Linked DNA regions of Homo sapiens. The protein of the gene in region 1 interacts with the protein of each later gene in a pairwise test. Each region holds a gene or a part of one and is shown in the gene's direction. Other genes may lie near its edges.

Evidence for each region.
Region 2: the proteins of EIF2S3 (region 1) and POLR3F interact in binary tests that used the Homo sapiens proteins (3 or more experiments, as listed by UniProt).
Region 3: the proteins of EIF2S3 (region 1) and MAP3K5 interact in binary tests that used the Homo sapiens proteins (3 or more experiments, as listed by UniProt).
Region 4: the proteins of EIF2S3 (region 1) and DPF1 interact in binary tests that used the Homo sapiens proteins (3 or more experiments, as listed by UniProt).
Region 5: the proteins of EIF2S3 (region 1) and SYNCRIP interact in binary tests that used the Homo sapiens proteins (3 or more experiments, as listed by UniProt).
Region 6: the proteins of EIF2S3 (region 1) and SPATS1 interact in binary tests that used the Homo sapiens proteins (3 or more experiments, as listed by UniProt).
Region 7: the proteins of EIF2S3 (region 1) and RASSF1 interact in binary tests that used the Homo sapiens proteins (3 or more experiments, as listed by UniProt).

The regions. Positions count from the first base shown.
Region 1 is NC_000023.11:24,057,956-24,061,455, forward strand, and holds part of EIF2S3 (eukaryotic translation initiation factor 2 subunit 3), read left to right. Parts: intron 1-2,132; coding exon 2,133-2,227; intron 2,228-3,500. UniProt on the Homo sapiens protein: Member of the eIF2 complex that functions in the early steps of protein synthesis by forming a ternary complex with GTP and initiator tRNA.
Region 2 is NC_000020.11:18,477,390-18,480,889, forward strand, and holds part of POLR3F (DNA-directed RNA polymerase III subunit RPC6), read left to right. Parts: intron 1-2,648; coding exon 2,649-2,792; intron 2,793-3,012; coding exon 3,013-3,120; intron 3,121-3,500. UniProt on the Homo sapiens protein: DNA-dependent RNA polymerase catalyzes the transcription of DNA into RNA using the four ribonucleoside triphosphates as substrates.
Region 3 is NC_000006.12:136,782,478-136,785,977, reverse strand, and holds part of MAP3K5 (mitogen-activated protein kinase kinase kinase 5), read left to right. Parts: exon of another isoform or gene 1-563; intron 564-1,703; exon of another isoform or gene 1,704-1,931; intron 1,932-3,500. UniProt on the Homo sapiens protein: Serine/threonine kinase which acts as an essential component of the MAP kinase signal transduction pathway. Plays an important role in the cascades of cellular responses evoked by changes in the environment.
Region 4 is NC_000019.10:38,217,723-38,221,222, reverse strand, and holds part of DPF1 (zinc finger protein neuro-d4), read left to right. Parts: intron 1-2,164; coding exon 2,165-2,292; intron 2,293-2,560; coding exon 2,561-2,650; intron 2,651-3,346; coding exon 3,347-3,425; intron 3,426-3,500. UniProt on the Homo sapiens protein: May have an important role in developing neurons by participating in regulation of cell survival, possibly as a neurospecific transcription factor. Belongs to the neuron-specific chromatin remodeling complex (nBAF complex).
Region 5 is NC_000006.12:85,632,887-85,636,386, reverse strand, and holds part of SYNCRIP (heterogeneous nuclear ribonucleoprotein Q), read left to right. Parts: intron 1-3,500. UniProt on the Homo sapiens protein: Heterogenous nuclear ribonucleoprotein (hnRNP) implicated in mRNA processing mechanisms. Component of the CRD-mediated complex that promotes MYC mRNA stability.
Region 6 is NC_000006.12:44,377,150-44,380,649, forward strand, and holds the end of SPATS1 (spermatogenesis-associated serine-rich protein 1), read left to right. Parts: 3' UTR 1-3,030; downstream 3,031-3,500.
Region 7 is NC_000003.12:50,330,837-50,334,336, reverse strand, and holds part of RASSF1 (ras association domain-containing protein 1), read left to right. Parts: intron 1-2,182; coding exon 2,183-2,287; intron 2,288-2,480; coding exon 2,481-2,778; intron 2,779-2,887; coding exon 2,888-3,003; intron 3,004-3,500. UniProt on the Homo sapiens protein: Potential tumor suppressor. Required for death receptor-dependent apoptosis. Mediates activation of STK3/MST2 and STK4/MST1 during Fas-induced apoptosis by preventing their dephosphorylation.

The DNA.
Region 1 (3,500 bases):
CTAAAAGTATCACTTAAACAAAACAGAAAAACAACTCATTGGATTGAAGGGATTCTTTTTCTAGGCTTCCTGAATTTCTTTTAAACAGCGCTGTTTCTGTATGTTAAATAGGAGAGAAACAGAGCCATTTCTAATTACTTCTCTAAAACACTTGAACTTGTTCCCCATCTGTTTTCTGAATATGATTGCATACCTGTTTTTTTATCAGGATACTGACACCTGTCTAGTGATGTTTATGGGGATTGGAGATGCCCTACAAGGAATGTTTAGATTGGGGCAGGGCTGGGACCAGGGAGGGACAAGTGAGGCCTTCACCTCAAGCCCAAAATGTAAGTGGGCCTGGCGGTGGCAGGTATGCCAGAAAACTCAGTAATTAGGATAAATATTTTAATGCAGTGTTTTTTTTAAATTAATGCAAAAAATGTGATAAATCAGAATTTTAAATAAGGGCAGACTCTATTACTAAATTTTTTTCCCCTTTTGCTTTGGCTCAGCATGGCATTGTATTTTGTTTATGATTGATTTTTTGCATTAATTTCGACTTTTTAAAAATACTGAATGCATATATTTTTTTTTCTTTCTTTTTTTTTTTTTTTTTTTTGAGACAGTCTCTGTTGCCCAGGTTGGAGTGCAGTGGTGCGATCTTGGCTCACTGCAGCTTCCACTTCTGGGTTCAAGCAATTCTCCTGCCTCAGCCTCCCGAGTAGCTGGGATTACAGGCGTGAGCCCCCATGCCCAGCTAGTTTTTATTTTTATTTATTTATTTATTTATTTTTGAGACGGAGTCTTTCTGTGTCGCCAGACTGGAGTGCAGTGGTAGAGACGGGGTTTTACCATGTTGGCCAGGATGGTCTCGATCTCTTGACCTTGTGATCCGTCCGCCTCGGCCTCCCAAAGTGCTGGGATTACAGGCGTGAGCCACTGTGCCCGGCCTAGTTTTTATATTTTTAGTAGAGGTGGGCTTTTGCCATGTTGTATAGGCTGGTCTCGAACTCCTGGCCTCAAGTGATCTGCCCGCCTCAGCCTCCCAAAGTGCTGGGATTACAGGCATGAGCCTCCATGCCCGGCCATTTTCCTTGATTACTGAGTTTTTTGGCAGTCTCTTAAATTTTGCACTTGTCTCACTGTAGTCCTGGCCTTTAATAGGGGATCAGCAAACTTTTTCCACAAAGGGCTAGGTAGTAAATATTTTCAGCTTTGCAAGCCATAGAGTTTCTGTTGATTCTGTTCTTCTATTACAGAAGCAAACGTAGACAATACGTGTGTAAATAGGTATGGTGGTGGGCCAGATTTGGCCTAAGGGCTGACCTCTGTTTTAGATCATGACAATGTGAGCATGCGATTAAAAAAACAATTGTGACTCTGAATGAATACCATAGTTTTGTTAAAAGTGCTGCCATCTCTGCTTCAAATGGGCAATTCTAGTTTTTCAAGGTGTTAGAGGTATTTTTGGAAAATTGTTTTTTTTTTTCTCTTTTTTTTTTGAGACGGAGTTTCACTCTTGTTGCCCAGGCTGGAATGCCATGGTGCTATCTTGGCGCATTGCAACCTCCACCTCCTGGGTTCAAGCGATTCTCCTGCCTCAGCCTCCCAAGTAGCTGGGATTACAGGCATGCACCAGCTACATGTGGCTAATTTTGTATTTTTATTAGAGACCGGGTTTCACCACGTTGGTCAGGCTGGTCTCAAACTCCTGACCTCAGGTGATCCACCTGCCTTGGCCTCCCAAAGTGCTGGGATTACAGGTGTGAGCCATTGCGCCCAGCCAGAAAATTGTTTTTTCAAATTCTCATTCTGTTAACGTGGTTTTTATAAGTCATTATAAGTTTTAGCTTTCAAATCAATGACATTCTCAGTATATACTCTCCACCATTATTCTATACCATATTCATTTTCATTGGATTTTGGAGTTTATCTTCCATTCTGCACATAACTAATTTAATTTGCTTTGTAATCTGCAGTGGTTTTCATCAGCTGGTGAACTTATTTCCAAGTTCTAGAAACGACAAGCCCTGTAACCATTTTATAGCAATAAGATTATTTCCTAAGTTGATTTAACTTTAAAAAATCTAAAACTAGCATGTGTAAGTAGTGATTTATGTTAAGGCTGATTGTTATTTCTCAATCATTAGACATGTTTCCTTTGTTGACTGTCCTGGCCACGATATTTTGATGGCTACTATGCTGAACGGTGCAGCAGTGATGGATGCAGCTCTTCTGTTGATAGGTAAATACCTCACAATTGGTTTGGACAAATCAATGTGGAACAAATCCAAGATGAAATATTTAAAGGGGAACTAAGGCCTTTAAGGATCATATCTATTACCTAAGGGTGACATGAATGGGAACTAACATGTCATCCAGGATGACTTTCCTACCTATCAGCTATCACAAAATACTCAAAAAGATAGACTTGGGGCTGATAGCTTGCGAGAATTCTTGTGGTAGCATTTGAGAAAAAGAAAAAAAGTCAATAGTTCATTTTTCTCATTTAAATCACATGAGGTGATTTATTTAGTTTTAAATGTATGTGTAAAACTATTTGTGTTATGGTTTGTGTGTGTGTATGTCTGAACTGTCTACTGTGGAAGTATTTAAGATACAAATATTCATAATACGTGCTGAAGTGTAGGAATAAGTGGAGTTTTGAAGGGTAGCGTATGCTTTGTTTCTTATGTTAGCTGTTGAGAGATTTCATTACTAGGGGGTAAAATTTTTTAAAAGCTGCTGGTGCGGTGGCTCACGCCTGTAATCCTAGCACTTTGGGAGGCTGAGGTCGGCGGATCACCTGAGGTCAGGAGTTTGAGACCAGCCTGACCAACATGGAGAAACCCCCTCTCTACTAAAAATACAAAATTAGCCGGGTGTGGTGGCGCATGCTTGTAATCCCATCTACTCAGGAGAATCTCTTGAACCCGGGAGGCAGAGGTTGCAGTGAGCCAAGATTGCGCCATTGCACTCCAGTCTGGGTAACAAGAGTAAAACTACATCTCAAAAAAAAAAAAAAAAAAAAAAAGCGACTGGGCATGGTGGCTCATGGCTGTAATCCCAGCACTTTGGGAGGCCGAGGCAGGCGGATCACTTGAGGTCAGGAGTTCAAGACCAGCCTGGCCAACAGGGCGAAACCCTGTCTCTGCTAAAACTACAAAAAATTAGCCAGGCTTGGTGGTGCGTGCCTGTAATCCCAGCTACTTGGGAGGCTGAGGCACGAGAATCGCTTGAACCCAGGAGACAGAGGTTGCAGTGAGCAGAGATCGAGCCATTGCACTCCAGCCTGGGCGACAGAAGGAGACTCAGTCTTAAAAAAAAAAAAAAAAAAAGCTGGGTGCGGTGGCTCACACCTGTAATCCCTGCACTTTGGGAGGCCAAGGCAGGTGGATCACTTGAGGTGTCAGGAGTTTGAGACCAGTCTGGCCAACATGGTGAAACCCTGCCTCTATTAAAAATACGAAAATTAGCCGGGTGTGGTGGGGCACACCTGTAATCACAGCTACTCAGGA
Region 2 (3,500 bases), on another chromosome or scaffold:
TTTTTACAAAACTAAACAGAGTCTTACCACATTGTCCAAAGGTCAAGCTCTTAAGTATTTACCCAACTGATTTGAAAACTCATGTCCACATAACTACATGAATATTTATAGCAGCTTTATTCGTAATCAGCAGCTTTATTCATAATCAAAAACTGGAAGCAACCAAGGTATCCTTCAATAGGTGAATGGATAGACAAACCAGAATAGTATTCAGTTATAAAAAGAAATAAGCTATCATGAAAAGATATGAGTAAATCTTAAATGCATATTGCTAAGTAAAAGAAGCCAGTCCGAAAAGGCTACATACTGTATGATTACAACTATATGACATACTGGAAAAGGCAAAACTAGACAGACTAAAAAGATCGGGGTGAGGGCAGGGATGGTAGGGAAAGTTGAATAGGTGAAGCATGAGAAATATTTCTAGGGTGGTGAAATTATTTTGTATGACAGAAGCATTAACCAAATTTGGAAGCCCACCCAAGCTTTGCTGTCCAAAGTTTTTATTAGGGTTTCATTATACAGGCATGATTGATTGAATCCTTGGTCATGTGAGTGAATTCAATCTCCAGCTCCTCTCTTCTCCCAAGAGATTGGACTGATGTCATGTGGCCCAAAGCCCCAACCCTCTAATCATGCGGTTGGTCTTTCCAGCATGGACAACTCCTATCCTGAAACTATTTAGAGTCCTATCAGGAGTCACCTTGTTAGCATAAACCCAGGTGTGATCTAAGGGATTCACCATGAATAACAAGGCCTATTGGGAAATTCCAAAGATGTAGAAGTTATTTCCTAGGAAAAAGGGACAAAGTCTAGCCAAATTTTTTTCTTTTTTTTTTTTTTTGAGACATGGTCTGGCTCTGTCACCCAGACTGGAGTGCAGTGGCACAATCACAGCTCACTGCAGCATCAACCTCCTGGGCTCAAGCCATCCTCCCACCACAGCCTTCCAAGTAGCTGGGACTATAGGCACGTGCCACCATGCTCAGCTAATTTTTGTATTTTTGTAGAGACAGGGTTTTACTATGTTACCCAGGCCTGTCTTGAACTCCTAGACTTAAAGATCTGCCCACCTCAGCCTCCCAAAGTGCTGGGATTACAGGCATAAGCCACCATGCCTGGCCCAAATTCTTCATGTTTACAACCCAGTGAAATTTGGGTTCCTCAGTGTTGGGGTGAGTAGTTACAGACAAACAAGGAAAGTTAGAATGATCCATGTAGTAATGGATTAGACTTGAAAACATCAGTATGGACTCTTGTGTAATTTAATATAAATAATATAGATGGTTATATTTAGAAATATTGAGTATAGCTATGTATATATACAAGGGTTAATATGCGCACATAAATCTCGTGCTGCCAACTGAGAAGGCCTAGAAGTGATGACATCCCGATGGCAATGAACACATCTAGTGCCCAAGTCGTGGTTTCTATCATGCAATAAAATGAACATGTAGAAAATGCTCCTGACGGCTGGGCAGGGTGGTTCATGCCTGTAATCCCAGCACTTTGGGAGGCCAAGGAGGGTGGATCACCTGAGGTCAGGAATTAGAGACCAGCTTGGCCAACATGGTGAAACCCCATCTCTACTGAAAATACAAAAAAATTAGCTGGGCATAGTGACGGGCGCCTGTAATCCCAGCTACTCGGGAGGCTGAGACAGGAGAATCGCTTGAACCTGGGAGGTGGAGGTTGCAGTAAGCTGAGATCGTGTGCCATTGCACTCCAGCCTGGCAACAAGAGCGAAACTCCGTTTCAAAAAAAAAAAGAAAAGAAAATGCTCTTGACATCTTGTAGTGCTAGAAAGTAAGAAAGTGCTACAATAGCTGGACACGGGGGCTCATGCCTGTAATCCCAGCACTTTGGGAGGCTGAGGCGGGAGGATCACGAGGTCAAGAGATCGAGACCATCCTGGCCAACATGGTGACACCCCCGTCTCTGCTAAAAATACAAAAATTAGCTGGGCATGGTGGCACATGCCTGTAGCCCCAGCTACTCGGGAGGCTGAGGCAGGAGAATCACTTGAACCCAAGAGGCAGAGGTTGCAGTGAACCAAGATTGCACCAGTGCACGCCAGCCTGGGCGACAGTGCAAGACCCTGTCTCCAAAAGAAAAAAAAAAGTGCTAAAATACACACACACACGATGGGAGCATAGCAAAGGGATACAGGAACCAAGTGAAAAGCTTCCAATGCCCAAAGCATTCCAAAGCTTCCAGTGTGGGAATAACAATGAAGTATCTGAATGTAAATCAAAGTATAAAATAAATACTCATGAGTCCATAGTGATAGAAATACGGTGTTTGAGAAACTGTCACAACTAAAAGAAGCCTGAGAGAGATGACTAAATGTAGTATGATGTCCTGGATGGAATCCTGGAGCAGAAAAGGAACATTAGGACTAATGAAATCTGAATAAAGTATGGCATTTAGTTAGTAATGATTTATCAATATTAGTTCATTAATTGTGACAAGTGTACCACACTAATCCAAGATGTTAAAAATAGGGGAAACAGCATGATGTATATAGGAGCTCTGTGTACTATCTTTGCAATAATTTTGTACATCTTAAACTGTTCCAAAATATAGGTGTTTTTGTTTTTGGAAATTGTTATCTTATAAACACATGAACTGTGCATGTTCTTTCCTAGGCCTCAAAAAAGAAGGTGTATATGCTCTATAACCTGCAGCCAGACCGGTCTGTGACTGGTGGAGCCTGGTACAGTGACCAGGATTTTGAATCTGAATTTGTAGAGGTGCTTAACCAACAGTGTTTTAAATTCCTACAGTCCAAGGTGAGGTATGATTGAGGAAACATCACTGCAAACCCTCTTGTAAAAAGTTTTTCACAAAGGATTTTAATCTATTTATCATATTTTATAGGAATTAAAAACCTGAAATTGGGAATTTTTACTTAACTAAATATGTTCTGTTGTTGGTTTGACTCAGTATAAAGTGTATTCAGAAAACACACCAATATTCTTATTTACATTTCTTATGTTTCAATCCTTATAGGCAGAAACAGCACGAGAAAGCAAACAGAACCCAATGATACAAAGAAATAGTTCATTTGCCTCATCACATGAAGTGTGGAAATATATCTGCGAATTGGGAATCAGTAAGGTCAGAACTGAATTTCATCTTATTTTTTAAAACTTATTCTTTGTCACATACAATGTATTCCAAACATGTATTTGACCCACATTGTTTTTTTTTTTTGAGATGATAGCTACGAACATTCTGCAGAATCCACTTTGGGAAAATACTGTCCTGTATCTTAGGCAAAGGCAGTCACTGCCATTGGGCATTGTCTGAACTGATACTCAGCTTGGGACACTGATGCTTTTTTTATTTTTTTGGAGGTAGGGTCTCATTTTGTTGCCCAGGCTGGTTTTGAACTTCTGGACTCAAGTGATCCTCCTGCGTTGGCCTCCCAAAGTGCCACTGTACCCTAGCCTTTTGAAATTCTTTTTTTAAGGACACTGATGCTTTTCACAGTGAAG
Region 3 (3,500 bases), on another chromosome or scaffold:
CTTGGAGCACACTTTTCTTAGAAACAGTATTGCACATGGTGGTCAGATTCTGGGACTAGCCTGTAAGAAGCCTGGTTAACACAGTTTATGGAACCATTCACCATTTTAAACATTCGGGAAAATTCTGTTTCTGAAACCTAAAACCGGGACTTTTCTTGTATTAGAGCAGTGACTTTTGCTTTCATCCACCTCTGAGTAGCATCTTGGCCAGATGTAGGAGAAGCATCAACTTGGAGTGGTGAAGGTGGTGGGGCTGTGGTGAGGAAGGGGACAAAGGGAAGATCAGGTGGCTGCAGGGAGAACCGGGATGCTGTGTGAAGGAGGAGGCAATGCCAGCAGGAGATCCAGCAACACTTTCACTTCCTTTAGGCTTCTTCCCTTTCTACTTCTGGCCGACGTAAGACCCAGGGATGCTGCTGTGCTCAAGGCCACCTCACTCCTTCAGTGGACACAGGGTTAGCTTGGCTGCCTGCTTCCCATTTCCTTACCACCAGCCTTCACATCCGCCCGGGCCTTTCAGCTTGGCTCACTGCAGATTGCAACCGCTTACTCAGCCTTTCACCCTGTAGCAATCATAGGTAACAGGAAGGAAGCACATGCTAGTTAAAATTGTAAGAACTTAGCTTTTCTATTCTCATCCATGGTATGTTCCCACTTTACTTGAGCTTGTGACAAAAGTCGCCCATGTGTTAATATGCCATCTTGCTGGAGAGGCATCTGACCTTGCCAGGCTTTGGCTCCAACTTGCTTCCAGCAAAGCTCCTTAGGACTTCTAATCTTATTTGGTAAAACAATAAAACAAAACAGAACATAACCTTGTATCCCATCTATCCCAGATGGAGAAGTTCTTGAAAATTGTCCAGCCCACTTCTGCATTTCTACTTTCAATATACTTTCCGAGTATATTGTCTCATATATTTTGAAGGAGAGAGTAAAGTCTGTATGTCCTAAATAGTGGTTCCCACGAACCAGTTAAAAAAATTTGGAGGACTGACATGTGTTTGCCAACATTTAAATTTTTCCAAGTAAGAGTATTATAAGTAGAGAAAGTGAGGAAAATCGAGAGAGAGAAAGAGAGACAGAGAGACAAGAAAATCAACAACCAGCCACCTATTGCCATGATTTCTTAAAAAGGAAAGTTTTATGTTAAAAAAAAATTAGTGGGGGACATAACCTTAGAATGAAGGGCAGATCTTCACATACAGAAAATGTGTGCAAAAACTCATGACTTGTTATTTATTTTTCCCATTTCTCCAAGGATGAGTGAAAACTTTATCACACCAGTCAACAGAGTTGTGTTTGAGAGCCTCTGATTGGAACCGCCCTGCAGCCCCTTCCCACCTTTCAGCCACTGCTTCACGTGAGAAACGAACCTTAGTAAAATTATCAAAAGAGCAAACGTAGATAAACTCATAAGGGAAAACTCTAGTTAGGGAAGGATTTTTTAAAAAAATCCCAGTGGTGTCCAACACATGGTTTTTCTCTGAGCTGTTCACGTTCCCTGGCACACCATTGTAGCAGCTGCCACCCACCGCACACAAACTGACAGCACTGCTGCTTCTTGCTTTCTTGGATAATGGGTCAATTAAGGCAAAACTATAATTTTTTTAAAAGAGCTTAACTAGAAAATCGGACGGAAAAAAGCAAAATCAAAAAGAAAACTCCAGAGCACAAAATTAGTTTTTAGAGTACCAATTTCTTACCCCACATCATCAGCTGCATGTTGTCATGACCGGCTCTGCTTCCTGGGCTGCCAGGATCCTGGTTTCTTTCCTTAATTTGGTCACCTGTTGTCTGCTTGAGACATTATCAGTTGGTAGTTCGAGCTGGTTCCATCTCTGGGTGAAGCCTGTGCATTATATAAGCGCATAACACAGGCTTGTCTCACCCGTGGCCTTGGCTGGAGCCAGCCTTTTGGGAGTTCTCTGTTTATAGGGCAGTTCCCCTCTGGTGGCTATAAGAACTGTGCCCTACTTCCTGTTTCAGAGGTCTGGTTAGAGGCCCATTCAGTTCCTGTTTCTGGTTTGCAGGATAAAATTGGTTCACACTTTCTTTGTGGAGCAGTGGGAGATGGACAAGCACAAAGTCCGGGAAATGTGCAAGTCTCTCCAGCATGAGGTACCAACCGTGCCTGCTTTCCAAGTACTTCCTCCAAGTGGTCCCTTCAAACACCACTCCAAGCCAGGAAAGTAGAGAACCATAGGAAAATGCATTATTGGCTACTGACTCCAGGGCTGACAGTGTGCTGTGCAATGATGGCCCCTCCCAGGAGGCCATTCGAGGGCCTTTTATCACACGCTCCCCTTTCTGTCACCCATGGAAGCCTCACTGTGGCTGTAGAACATGCCAGCATTTGCCCCGCTCCACCTGGGGCAAGATGAGAGTGGGAAATGTGGTGGAGGTGGGCAGTGTTGCAGGAACCCACAGCTATGTGGTTATCAGAAGAAACTGGGAACCCACAGCTTTGGGAAAAATATATCTTGAAGACAGCCTCATCTTCCTGTAATTTGGATATAGGTAGGTGGGGAAACTGGCTAGATATGAGAAAGATACCCTCATTTTCAGGGAGTAAAATTAAACTTGAAAATTTTATTAGTGGCATAAAAGGGAAATAAAGGAAATCAAGGCAAAATGATAAATTAAAAATCCATTGGTGACTCTGATATATTGGTTTGTGTAGTTGTGGGTTTTTTTTTTTTTTAAGAAGATCTTGCTCTGTCACCCAGGCTGGAGTGCGTTGGCATGATTTCGGCTCCAACTGCAACCTCCGCCTTCTGGGCTCAAGTGATCCTCCTGCTTTGAGCACAGCCAAGCCTGGCCAATTTTTGTATTTTTATGTAGAGATGGGGTTTTACCATGTTGCCCAGGCTGGTCTCAAACTCCTGGACTCAAGCGATCCTCCTGCCTCAGTCTCCCAAAGTGCTGGGATTACAGGCGTGGGCCACTGCGCCTAGCCTAGTTGTTTTAATGTATTAGTTTTTCTCTTTGGCTAAAGGTATTGACTAGAGACACTAATCGAAATATGTGCCAGGTTAGTGGAAAAGCAGGAAGGATATGAGACAAAGCTGATTTTCAAAATCTTGTCTAAGTGTTCAAAAAATGTAAATAATTGATAACTTACATTTCATATGAATTTTATTTTGTAGTGTTTTTGGTTTTCCAAAGGAAAACAGAAATAACTGAAACTACATTGTGATAATTTTCTTAGGGGAGACAGGAGAGAGAATTTTAAATATTAAGGGCATTTCCTATTTAATAAAATCATAGTAGAGCAGATCTGTATAACTTAAATGCCACAGAAGTTGCACAGGGTAACAGAAAACATTCCACTATAAGCAGACCTTTTCTGTTACAGTAGTTCATCAACAATGAGGAAAGCAATTGCCTTTGGTATATGATTCATACAGGAAGTAAGTTATATTCCTTTGTACTGGCAATCTCCAAAAATGGTTGAGACCAGTTATACCAGTACTTTCCAATACTTGTAGCCTCTTCTACAC
Region 4 (3,500 bases), on another chromosome or scaffold:
GGTGTCTGCCTCTGTATCTCCCCAAGGGCGTCTGGATGTCTCAGTGTCTGGTTGGAGCTCTTTCCTCTCTTAGGTGTATCTTCCCAGGTGTCTCCAAGTGTCTTAGAAGGCTTGTGTCTTGTGTATGTCTGGTCTGTCAGGGTGTCCGGCTCCTCCCGAGTGTGTCTGGGTGTGTTAGGCGGTGCGGCCGTCTCTTTCTGTGGGTGTGTGGGTGCCTCGGAGTGTCTGGGAGAATCTTCCTGATGGTGTCTGGCGTATCAGGTGTATTTCTGCACGTGTGTGCCAGTCCATCAGAGGATCTGGACTTACCCTTGAATGTGTTTAGGAATATCGGGATCCTCGGGGTCAGTTTCTCTTCCTGAGTCCGAGGGTCTGTGTGTACCCAGGAGCGTGGCAGTGCCCACCTGGCTGTGTCTCTTCCTGTCTGTCTCCTGTGTGTGTTTGTGTGTATCTAGCTGAGTGATTCTCCCTGAGTATGTCGGTATCTCCCCGCTATGTGTCCAAGCATCTCATCTGGCTGTGTCTTCCCCAGGGTCTAGGTGTATCTGGAGGGCTAATTGTTTCTTTCTTTTTTTCTTTTTTCTTTTTCTTTTTCTTTTTTTTTTTTGAGACGGAGTCTTGCTCTGTCGCCCAGGCTGGAGTGCAGTGGCGCGATCTCACTGCAAGCTCCGCCTCCTGGGTTCACGCCATTCTCCTGCCTCAGCCTCCCGAGTAGCTGGGACTACAGGCGCCTGCCACTACGCCCAGCTAATTTTTTGTATTTTTAGTAGAGACGGGGTTTCACCGTGTTAGCCAGGATGGTCTCGATCTCCTGACCTCATGATCTGCCCGCCTCGGCCTCCCAAAGTGCTGGGATTACAGGCGTGAGCCACCGCACCCGGCCTCTTTCTTTCTTTCTCTTTCTTTCTTTCTTTCTCTTTCTTTCTCTCTCTCTCTTTTTCTTTTCTTTCCTTCCTTCCTTTCTTTCTTTCTTTCCTTCCTTCTTTCTTTCTTTCTCTCTCTTTCTTTTTCTTTTCTTTCCCTCCTTCCTTCCTTCTTCCTTTCTTTTTTTTTTTCACCCAGTTTGGAGTGCAGTGGCACGATCTCGGCTCACTGCAACCTCCGCATCCCGGGTTCAAGTGATTCTCTGCCTCAACCTCCTGAGTAGCTGGGATTACAGGCATGTGCCCCTACACCCGGCTAATTTTTGTATTTTTTTTTTTTTAAGTAGAGATGAGGTTTTACCATGTTGGCCAGGCTGGTCTCAAACTCCTGACCTCAAGTGATCCACCCGCCTCAGCCTCCTAAAGTGTTGGGATTACAGGTGTGAGCCAACGCGCCTGGCCAGCTAATTGTCTCTGAGCATTTCTGAGTGTACCCATGGGTCCAGCTATGTCTCCTCCCTGTGTCTGGGTGTCTCCAAGGATCTGGCTATACCTCTTTGAGTCTCTAGGCTGTATCTGAGAGTGTGGCTTATGCCTGTAATTCCAGCACTTTGGAAGGCCGAGGCAGAGGATCGCTTGAACTCAGGAGTTTGAGACCAGCCTGATTAACACGATGAAACCCCATCTCTACCAAAAATACAAAAATTAGCCCAGTGTGGTAGCATGCCAGCTACTCTGCCTGTAGTCCCAGCTACTCAGGAGGCTGAGGTGGGAGGATCACTTGAGCCTGGGAGTCGCAGTGAGCTGAGATTGCGCCACTGCACTCCAACCTGGGTGACAGAGCGAGACCCTGTCTCAAAAAAAAAAGAAAAAAGACAGCATGGCTGGGCCTCTTCCTTCCCGCATCTGTCTCAGACGATCTGTCTGGATGTCCCCTGCGGGTGTCCCTGTGTCTCCTCTGCGAGTGTCTGGATCTGTCCATATTTGTCTGGGTATGTTTGAGAGTCGCTGTGTCTTCCCTGAGTAGGTCTGGGTGTGCCTGATGGCCTAACTGTGTCTTTTTCTGAGGCTTTCTGGTGTATCCAAAGTTCTGACCGTGTCTCCTGCTGTGCATCCCAGGGCATCTGAGGGCGTGACTGGGTCTCCCCAGAGTCTGGGCCTCCCTCCTAGGGCATGTGGTTAAATCCTTGCCTCTGCAGCCTCTTCCCTCCTGCAAAGAGCATGGTCCCCCCACCTGCATAGTTTGAGGAGTCCTCCGGGGTCAACTTCCCCATCTGACCCCCCCATGGCCCTGTCCCCAGACTGTGAAGCACCCCTGAAGAAGGAGGGTGGCCTCCCGGAAGGGCCGGTCCTCGAGGCTCTACTGTGTGCAGAGACGGGGGAGAAGAAGATTGAGCTGAAGGAGGAGGAGACCATTATGGACTGTCAGGTGGGCCCACCTCTGGGGGACCCCCGCTGCATGGCTTCGTCTCACCCCTGCCTGCCACCAGCCCGGGCCCTCACGTTCCTGCTCTGAAACCCCCCCGGTTTCTTCTGGCTGTTGGGCATCCCAGTCACCATCCTCCCAGACTTCATCTCTATTTGGAAGAACTCCTGACTTATACTCTCACCCCCAATCTCCACCTTTGCCCAGAGCCCCTCAAAAGCAGGTCAGTGGCCCCCACTTTCTTGACCCGTCTCCTTTCTCTATTGCCCAGAAACAGCAGTTGCTGGAGTTTCCGCATGACCTCGAGGTGGAAGACTTGGAGGATGACATTCCCAGGAGGAAGAACAGGGCCAAAGGAAAGGTATCACCCCAAGCTTCTCCTCTTCCCCGCTCCCCTCAATGACAGGTCTCATTCATGGAGCAGGTGCAGTGGTCCGCCCCTGCCACAGTCTGACCTCAGTCTGACCTCATTGAATCCCCAGAGCGGCCTGCAGGGGTGGGGGATTTTATACCCATTTTACAGATGAGGAAACTGAGGCTCATCTGTATTAAGCCATTTGCAAAGCAGAGATTATGCAGTGGGTTAGAGCTACCTTCATCCCCATGCCACAGAGGAAGAAGCTGAACCTTGGAGAGGTTCAAGGCCCCACAGCTAGGACATTTGTACAGCTGCAATTTGAATTTGCAAAAGACACTGTTTTCTCACTTTCTTTTTTCTTTTTTTTCTTTTTTTTGAGACGGAGTCTCGCTCTGTCACAGGCTAGAGTGCAGTGGCGCAATATCTGCTCACTGCAACCTCCGCCTCCCGGGTTCAAGCGATTCTCCTGCCTCAGCCTCCCGAGTAGCTGGGACTACAGGCACGCGCCACCATGCCCAGCTAATTTTTCTATTTTTAGTAGAGACGGGGCTTCACCATGTTGGCCAAGGTGGTCTCGATCTCTTGACCTCGTGATCCGCCTGCCTCGGCCTCCCAAAGTGCTGGGATTACAGGTGTGAGCCACCACGCCTGGCCTGTTTTCTCACTTTCTTGGCCCCTCACTCCTGACTCTCCCCACAGGCATATGGCATCGGGGGTCTCCGGAAACGCCAGGACACCGCTTCCCTGGAGGACCGAGACAAGCCGTATGTCTGTGATAGTGAGTCCTTCTGAAGAGGGGGAAAGGCAGAGAGAGGGGTGCCCAGAGACTCCCCACCTCGTGGCCCTCTCCCTC
Region 5 (3,500 bases), on another chromosome or scaffold:
GCAACCTCCACCCCTCAGGTTCAAGTGATTCTCCTGCCTCAGCCTCCCGAGTAGCTAGGATTATAGGCGCCTGCCACCACGCTCAGGCTAATTTTTATATTTTTAGTAGAGATGGGGTTTCGCCATGTTGGCCAGGCTGGTCTCGAACTCCTGACCTCCGGTGATCCACTCGCTTCGGCCTCCCAAAGTCCTGGGATTTTAGACGTGAGCCACCACGCCTGGCTAGAAAGAAATTTTAATATTTTAAATTATAGTTTATGTAAGTCCTTTAAACTAGTTTTATTAAGTTCTGTGACAGAAGTGGTTTCTGCATTTTATAGTTGAAGAGTTGGGGGCTAATTTAAACCCATAGAATGTATCAAGCAACACGACTGGGGAGAACTTTTGTACAAGATAGCTCACTATGCCATGTTTGTTAAATTTGCTTTATCTGGCTTACGTATCCTGTGGGTAATTCCAGACAAACTTAAAATCTTCAGACTCATTTTTTTTTCCCTCCCTCCTGAGTTTTACCCCTTCCTTTACCATGAGGTTTATCACTTTAAGCAAGCCTTAAAGAGAAAAATAAAACTCATAAGTCTTCCTTTTCTTTTTTTTTTTTTTTTTTTTTTTGGGAGATAGAATCTCACTCTGTCACCTAGACAGCAGGAGTGCCATGGTGCGATCTTGGCTCACTGCAACCTCCGCCTCCCAGGTTCAAGCGATTCTCCTGCCTCAGCCTCTCCGGTAGCTGGGATTACAGGCATTTATCACCACACCTGGCTAAATTTTGTATTTTTAGTAGAGACAGGGTTTCACCATGTTGGCCAGGCTGGTCATGAACTCTTGACCTCAGAAGATATGCCTGCCTCAGCCCCGCAAAGTGCTGGGATTGCAGACGTGTGCCACTGCACCCGGCCAAGTCTTCCTTTTCTATGTTGTGTGAATATTCCCCACTGGTTTGCATAATTGAGTATGATGGAAGTTAAACAGTACAAAATTATGTTACTTGAAAGAATATAAGCCTTTACAAAGAGAATTTGAGAATTTAGATATTTTCAAATCATGTCTGATTTTTCTCTTCATAAAAGAGTGCTTTGTGTTTTAGAGGGAATTCAGATTTACTGGTAACCTTTGAGTTGTCAAAATTTTAGTTTCAGCAGTTCAATTTGAGGGGAGGGGCATTTTAGAGCTCTAGAAAGAGGTACCTTAGAAATCCTTTAGTTTGTTTTTATGATTTGTTTTTTGAGACAAAGTCTCTGTCACCCACGCTGGAGTGTGTGGGCATGATCTTGGCTCACTGTAATCTCTGCCTCCTGGGCTCAGGCAATTCTCCTGCCTCAGCCACCCGAGTAGCTGGGATAATAGGCGCGTACCACCACACCTGACTAATTTTTGTATATTTGGTAGAGATGGGGTTATGTTGGCCAGGCCGGTCTTGAACTCCAGACCTCAAGTAATCTGCCCGCCTTGGCCTCCCAAAGTGCTGGGATGACAGGCATGAGCCACTGTGCCTGGCAGGTTGGTCTTGAACTCATGGTCTCAAGCAGTCCTCCTACCTCGGCTTCCCAAAGTGCAAGGATTACTGGCATGAGCCACCTTGCCTGTCCCAAAATCCTTTAATCTCCTATAAAAGAGTAGAATATTTTTGCCAAGTAGCAATAAAGTAGCAGTAAGTGAAAATGCAGAATGATCCAGTAAGCAATGAGGTATCATAACTACAGAAAGCTAATACAGTGGGCTCTCTCTACTGTGGGTCCTGCATTCACAGTTTCAGCTAGCTGAGGATTGAAGATACTCCCAAAAAACCCAATAAAAAAAAAAAACAACACACCAGTGTATGAGAGAATGTTCGTAGGTTATGTGCAAACACTATGCTATTTAAGAGAGTTGAGCATTCATGGATTTTGGTATGGGTTCCTGGAATCAGTCCCCCGTATGTGCTGAGGGACCACTGCAGAATTTAGCTAGTGGTGTCATCCATTTTTTAACATTATGAAAAAGAATCATTAAACTGACATCGTAGGTTACCTAATTCTTGCCGTCAAAATGTACCAATTATGGTAGGTGACCACTATAACTTATTTATAGATGTTTTCCAGAAACTTTACAGTAAAGATACATCATTAGAGGAAGATGGTTTATAATCCATTAGTAACAGTGATTTCGAGTGCCAGTAGACACTAGGAAATGTTTCCATTTGTACAATTGCCTTGTTTAATAAATACGTTAAATTATAAAATTGCATTGCTGTAGGTTGCTTAGAATATAGTCTTATTAATATAGTTTTTAAATATAATGGAGAAACTTCTATAGATAAGCATTCTTTTTGATTGGCGTAGGAATTAACCCTTGTCCTAAAACTTTCTACATTTCTTTCTGGGTTTCTCTGTTGTGATTTGAATCCTTTTCTGGGGGCATAATTATTTTGTACTATCTAATTAATAGGAGACTTTGCATTTTGTTGTCTTTTAAAAGATACTTTTGGCAGGGTGTGGTTGCTCACACCTGTAGTCCCAGCACTTTGGTAGGCTGAGGTGCAAGGATTGATTGAAACCAGCCTGGGAAACATAGACCCCATCTGTACCAAAAAGTAACAGATTAGCCAGGCAGCGTGCACCTGTGGTCCCAGGAGGTCAAGGCTGCAATGACCTGTGATCATGCCACTGCACTCCAGCCTGGGCAACAGAGACCCTGTCTCAAAAAACCAAAAAGGGGGAAAAAAAAAATTTCCAATGGTAGGTATTGGTATACAGCCAGTAGGATATATTGGTCATACCATCATTTGCTTTTTTTGACTTTTTAGTAAGTTTTTTTGAAACGGAGTCTCCCTCTGTTGCCCAGGCTGGGGTGCAGTGGTGTGATCTCAACTCACTGCAACCTCTGCCTTCTGGGTTCAAGTGATTCTTCTGTTTCAGCCCCCTGAGTAGCTGGGATTACAGGTGCACACCACCATGCCCTACTGATTTTTGTATTTTTAGTAGAGATGGGGTTTCACCCTGTTGGCCAGGCTGGTCTCAAACTCCTGACCCCAGTCTCGGCCTCGGCTTCCCAAAGTGCTGGGAGTACAGGTGTGAGCCACCACACCCAGCCTACTTTTAAGTAAATTGTTTATTTTATTTATTTATTTATTTATTTATTTATTTGTTTTTGAGATGGAGTCTCACTCTGTTGCCCAGGCTGGAGTGCAGTGGTGCAATCTCGGCTCACTGCAAGCTCTGCCTCCCGGGTTCACGCCATTCTCCTGCCTCAGCCTCCTGAGTAGCTGGTACTACAGGCACCCACCACCACACCCAGCTAATTTTTTTTGTATTTTTTTAGTAGAGACAGGGTTTCACCGTGTTAGCCAGGATGGTCTCGATCTCTTGACCTTGTGATTCACCCGCCTTGGCTTCCCAAAGTGCTGGGATTACAGGTGTGAGCCACCGCGCCCGGCCTTAAGTAAACGGTTTTAATTATTATTACTGTTTTCGGAGACAGGTTGTCACTCTGTTGCCCTTGCTGGAGTGCAGTGTCATGAT
Region 6 (3,500 bases), on another chromosome or scaffold:
TCCAGTGTTTGACCCTTATGAGGAAGTGTTGTGCTTTGCTTTTTTAAAACTTTATATTTTGAAAACTTTCACATTTACATAAAAGTTGCAAGAATTGTACAACAAACACCTGCATATCCTTCACATAGATTCTATCATTGTTAATATTTGTTCAAACTTTCTCTCTCTCACAATATTACAGTTACCATTTTGCTGAACTCTTTGAGAGTGAGTGGCAGATATTGTAACCCTTTACACCTGTATACCTACATACCTCAGCATGTATCTTCTAAGGTCAAGGATGTTGTCTAACAACCACAACACAAATACCAAACTCACAGAATTTAACACTGATAAAATATTATTAACATTTAGTCCACATTCAATTTTAGTCAATTATATTTAGTTTTCTAAGGATGCCCTCAAATCAATCATAAAATACAGACATGATGTGAGTGTCTTAGCCTGTTCAGGCTGCTATAACAAAACGCCATAAACAGAATGGCTTATAAACAATAGGAATTCATTTCTTACAGTTCTGGAGGCTGGGAAGTCCAAGCGCAGGGTGCTGGCAGGTTCAGTGTCTGCTGAGGGCCAGCCTTCTGGCTCATAGATAGTACCTTCTTGCTGTGTCCTCATATGATAGAAAGGGTGAGCTAGTCCTCTGGGGTCTCTTTTACAAGGGCACTAATCTCATTCATGAGGGCTCTGGTCTCATGACCTAATCGCCTCCCAATGGCCTTACCTCCTAATACCATCACCTTGGGGATTAGGTTTCGACATATGCATTTTGGGGTGGGGAGGACAAACATTTAGACCATAGCAGTGAACTTTCATTGCTTTTGGTAAAACTTTTCATTTTATTAATACCTTTTGGAATGTTTCTCTAATGTTAACTTGGTACATGTCAGAAAAACATGAAGGCTGGATCTATACCAGGTAAGTAATACTATTGCCCTGTAGCTGCATTCCCCAGTTTAGTATTGCCTATCTACAATAGCCAAGCAGGGTGAGAGCTCAGTGACCACCAGTCATGAGTTTTAGGGCCTCCTGTCAATCAGACAAGAAGCAAACATTTGGAGGAAAAGGTGAAAACAAAAGCTGCCTCACAGGCTTTGACACAGTCAAACTAGTGACTCACGGCATTTTTACAGCCAATCTCTTTCTCCACTAGGGAACCCCCTTGGCTGGCTAATGAAGGCTGCAGATCTAGTATCTCCAAAACCTTAAAGTGGAAAGAGATTGGGGTCCATGCTGAGACTCCACATGTCTATGACATGAGCATGATTTATTTCCCAAAATGTTTGTTGTCTCCAGTCACAGCCAAAGTGAATGAAGCAGGTTTAGAACACGATACATTTAGCCAGGTGTGGTGGCTCATGCCTGTAATCCCAGCACTTTTGGAGGCCGAGGCAGGCGAATCACTTGAGGTCAGGAGTTCGAGACCAGCCTGGTCAACATGGCGAAACCTGTCTCTACTAAAATCACAAAAATTAGCCAGGCAAGATGGTGGGCACCTGTAATCCCTGGTACTCGGGAGGCTGAGGCAGGAGAATCTCTTGAACCCAGGAGGCAGAGGTTGCAGTGAGCCAAGACCATGCCATTGCACTCCAGCCTGGGCGACAAGAGCGAAACTCCATCCCAAAAACAAAGAAGCAAACAAAAACCACAATGCATTCATGGCACCTTCATATGTGCCTCTAGACTAACTGGCAGAGAGCATGGTGCCGACTGCCAGCTGCTGTGCCTGACCACTCCTTGGGTTAACATCAGCATACATCCGTGCTAATCCTCTGGCCCCTGGGTCACAGGCCCACCCCTGCTCCCAACATAATAATTTAAAAAAACACCAAATAATTTTTAAAAAGACAGAGGCTGCCAAGAGATTTTCCAGGACACATTAACTTCTGAAAAGATAATAATTTTTTGTGCCTCTATTACTTAAATGTAAAAAAGTCTTCTTTCCCCTAGTCAAAAACAATGCCCCACCCCTAAAAAAAAAAGTCAACTGCAACCACCAGGTGGGTTAGTAATGGAGGACACAATATAGAACAAAAAAAGATTCTGCAGAGATTTCCTGGTGAGATTATCTAGGTGGCACAGGAAACTGCTCTCAGAAGGTTCCCTGGTGTTTTGGAAGGAGGGAGTCCTACACCATAAATATATTAAGGAAAACAACCGGCTGGGCGTGGTGGCTCACGCCTGTAATCCCAGCACTTTGGGAGGCCGAGGCAGGCGGATCACGAGGTCAGGAGATCGAGACCATCCTGGCTAACATGGAGAAACCCTGTCTCTATTAAAAACACAAAAAAATTAGCCAGGCATGGTGGTGGGCACCTATAGTCCCAGGACTGTACTATACTCGGGAGGCTGAGGCAGGAGAATGGTGTCAACCTGGGAGGCGGAGCTTGCAGTGACCCAAGATTGTGCCACTGCACTCCAGCCTGGGCAACAGAGTGAGACTCTGTCTCAAAAAAAAAAAAAAAAAAAAAAAAAAAAGAAAGAAAGAAAGAAAGAAAAACAACCAAAATACAGTTTTAGAAGGTTTGGAGTAGTCTCTAGGTTTCAAAGAGGTCTATATAATTCCTAGGTGCTGCTCTAAGTAGATATGATTTGATTCCTTTTTCTTTTAATCCAGGCCGCAAAAACCATGAGTAAAAAAAAAAAACACAAAAAAACAAAAAAACCCTACACAACTGTTAGATGATTGAACTTCTGGAGTTGCAGAGCTACATTTCATCCCCTGAAAATCAGGGCAGTTTTCGCTGGATCTGGTGTTCTCTGTGGGTACATCTCGATGCCCAGGCCTTATTCCACGGCACCTCAATAGCTGTCAGGTAGAGTTCCACTGCCAACTTTGGACAGCATGAGTATGTCTACGTGTGTGGGGAGACAAAGGCATAGAGAAAGGCCACATGGGAAAAATATGTGCATATCATAGCTGTTCCAGCTTTTGCTTCTTTCCAGCTAGAAAGAGGTTGAACCTGTTAGATGTAAAGATCCCCTTCACCTCACTGTAGGGTCTTTGGTAAATAAAAACATGTGGGTGCAGAGGTGTGTGTGTGTTCAATTCTTACTTTCAATAACTGAAGTTCAATAGAAATAAACTATATGTGAAACTTTACAAGTAAATTTCTTAGTGTGCAATTTTATATTGCACAGAGGTATTCTAATTTTGGATCCTGGGATAAATGAAAAATGACCTCTGTGGACATGAAGAAACATTGTATTATTCAGCTAGTGGCACCAACGTTCGAATTAGTGATCTCTGAACTCCAAGTTACCAAAATGTTAAGATAGTAGGATATTAAACTTCTAAAATTCCACAAGGAATTTAGGAATATACTGTAGGATTCCACTAATTGTCCACATTTCTAATACGAGGCACTCAGTTTGGTTAGTTTTGTTTTGTTCTTAGGCATTTTGGTCTCAAAATCTAGGCAGGTAAACACATTGTTTACAGGACTTGACTTGGTGAAGTATTTTAGAGTTGGAGTCCTTCAAGATCATGTCTCTGTCCT
Region 7 (3,500 bases), on another chromosome or scaffold:
AGTGCTCTTCTCCATCCAGGAGACCTTTGGATACTTGGGGAAGAAAATGAGCTTAAATTCCCACCCCTCCCCCTTTACCTTTTTCCTGTAAGGCCCTGGCCTTAGTTCTTAGCCCCACATCCTTGCTGGCTGCAGAATAGCAGCGGGTTCTGGGTAAGGAGCATTCTGCTAAAACGCTCCACCCTGCTCCCTCATCTGTCCTCTCCATTTGTCCCCATCAGATGGTTTAAGTGCTTAAGGGGACTCCAGGGCGGAGTCAGGGAGAACCCTGGCTCTCCTGGGCTAGGCACAAGATCATTCTACAGGAAACCTTGTGGGAATTCTTCTGGGACAAAGTATTGGTCAGCGCTGAGCTTAGCTGTGTCTGTGACACTCGCATTCTAACTAGGGCCTATCTGACGTCAACAGGAAGTAAGGCTGATGCAGTGGGGCCAAGGGAGTCTGGGAGAAGAAAGTCGGTTCAGAGCCCTGGCTGCCCTGTCCCACACTCCACCCTTCCGGCAAGAATCCAGTCCCTAGATGAGGTGGGGAGTGAGTGGTCGAGTTAAAAATCTCTGGGTCGGGTACGATGGTTCACGCCTGTAATCCCAGCACTTTGGGAGGTGAAGGCAGGCGGATCACTTGAGGTCAGGAGTTCAAGACCAACCTGGCCAATGTGGTGAAATCCCATCTCTACTAAAAATACAAAAATTAGCCGGGTGTTGTTGTGGCACGCGCCTGTAGTCCCAGCTACTCGGGAGTCTGAGGCAGGAGAATCGCTTGAACCCAGGAGGCAGAACTTGCAGTGAGCCAAGATCCAGCCACTGCACTACAGCCTGGGCGACAGAGTGAGGCTTCGTCTCAAAAAAAAAAAAAATCTTTGGGCCAAATCTCCAGACAGCACAGGCAGGTGCAGAAACCCACCAGGAAGCTGCCTGTGTACCTCTGGCAGATTGGAGCCTGGCCTAAAGCTGCCTTTTATGCAGCTTGGGTCAAGGTTAAACATCATGTCACAGTGATTTTTCTCACTATGTGTGAGACATGGAGAACTGGCTCCAAGTACTACTCTGTCCACTGGTGGCTGGACTACTGATGTGCACCACTCTCCACTCCTCTCACCCTGCAGTGGGTCATGGCCCCGTGCCGGGGCAGAGGAGAAAAATGGGCTGCCTTCTCCAGGACAAACCCTCACTCCAACTCAACTAGGGTGCTGTGATCAGAATGTGCAATTGAGGTGTGATTTTACTGATTTTTTTTTTTTTTGAGACCGAGTTTCGCTCTTGTTGCCCAGGCTGGAGTGCGATGGCACGATCTCAGTTCACTGCAACCTCCACCTCCCGAGTTTGAGCAATTCTCCTGCCTCAGCCTCCTAAGTAGCTGGGATTACAGGCATGTGCCACCACGCCTGGCTAATTTTGTATTTTTAGTAGAGACGGGGTTTCTCCATGTTGGTCAGGCTGGTCTCAAACTCCTGACCTCAGGTGATCCACCCGCCTCGGCCTCCCAAAGTGCTAGAATTACAGGCGTGAGCCAACGTGCCCAGCCTGTTTTTGTTTTTTGTGTTTTGAAGCAGGGTCTCACTCAGTTCCCCAGGCTGGAGTGCAGTGACACGATAATAGCTTACTGTAGCTGCAATCTCCCGGGCTCAAACGATCCTCCCACCTCAGCCTCCTGAACAGTTGGGACTACAGGCACACCACCACACCTGGCTAATTTTTTTTTTTCTTTTTTTAGTAGAGATGAGGTCTTGCTATGTTGCCCAAGCTGGTCTCAAACTCCTGAGGATCAAGTGATCCTCCTACCTTAGCCTCCCAAAATGCTGGGATTGCAGATGTGAGCCACCACACCCAGCCTGATTTTACTTTAAATGAGAGTCCCTCTTCAGAGTCCCTCAGCTGTTCCTGGCCCCTGGCCATGTGCCTTCAGTTGCCCCTGCTTCTGTGGTATCCTTAAGGCTACATTCAGTGCTGAGGCCCTAGGCAGGCAGCAGAGAGAAGCCAAATGATTCTGTCTTTCCCTTATCCACCCAGAGCATGCAAAACCAGGAGCAGTGGTGGGTTCAGGGTGGGCACCAGCTATGTATATGTACATCAGGGACAGGGGGCCAAAGGCAGTCAGTTTCCAAAGACTGCCCCAGAGGCCATTTTTCAGAGAAGCCCTGGGTTCCTCAAGGGCCCTGTGTCCATGCTGGCCCATCTTGCAGGACGAGCCTGTGGAGTGGGAGACACCTGACCTTTCTCAAGCTGAGATTGAGCAGAAGATCAAGGAGTACAATGCCCAGATCAACAGCAACCTCTTCATGAGCTTGGTGAGTTGACTGCTCAGGAAGGGGGCGTGGGGAGGAGCAGGTACCCAGCTATGTGCCTGATACTCAGAGGGTCACAACTGAGGTTATCTTGGGTGGGCGCAAGCAGTAATTTGTGCATACCCAGCCTAGCCCCAAGTAGACTGACATCTCACCTGGAACCTATTATCAAGGTTTGGTTTCTCTATTTCTTTAGAACAAGGACGGTTCTTACACAGGCTTCATCAAGGTTCAGCTGAAGCTGGTGCGCCCTGTCTCTGTGCCCTCCAGCAAGAAGCCACCCTCCTTGCAGGATGCCCGGCGGGGCCCAGGACGGGGCACAAGTGTCAGGCGCCGCACTTCCTTTTACCTGCCCAAGGATGCTGTCAAGCACCTGCATGTGCTGTCACGCACAAGGGCACGTGAAGTCATTGAGGCCCTGCTGCGAAAGTTCTTGGTGGTGGATGACCCCCGCAAGTTTGCACTCTTTGAGCGCGCTGAGCGTCACGGCCAAGGTGGGCTTCCCACCCCACCCTGCCCTATGTGAGGGTATATACGCATGCACCTGAGCATGCAGGGGCTGAGCAGCTGGCCCTGTCTCTGATCATTACTTCCCCTTCACAGTGTACTTGCGGAAGCTGTTGGATGATGAGCAGCCCCTGCGGCTGCGGCTCCTGGCAGGGCCCAGTGACAAGGCCCTGAGCTTTGTCCTGAAGGAAAATGACTCTGGGGAGGTGAACGTGAGTACATAGTTCTTAGTTTCTTGGTTGTCACTAGACAGGACTGATGGGCTGTAGCTACAGTAAGGCTTGGAGGAGGAATTGTGCTGGAAGACAAGCCCTGCAAAACAGTTCCAGGAGTGTATAGGCATTGTAACTAAAGCAAAGGCTTCCAGACCACTCATGCCAAAGCCTAGGGTTGTCCCAAGAAGCCAGGAAGAATTGCCTTGGTGCTTTGATCTTTCCTGGTGTGGAAAATCTTCTGGAGATGCAGGAGTCCATCTAATGACATGAGGAGGCCCCCTTCAGACTTTTTACCTGGAAGCTTTCTGGCTCCAAGGTATTAGGCCTGTGGAGTGAAATTAGACTCAGAATATGCCTGACCTGTCCACAGGTAATTGGGGAACATCTGACTTGGTTGTCTCAGTAAGGTGACCGTTTTGTAGGGCCCATCTTCCATACAAACTGCTGTCAGGGATCCTACCAGAGATCATTCAGCCAAGAGCCTGACATCAGAA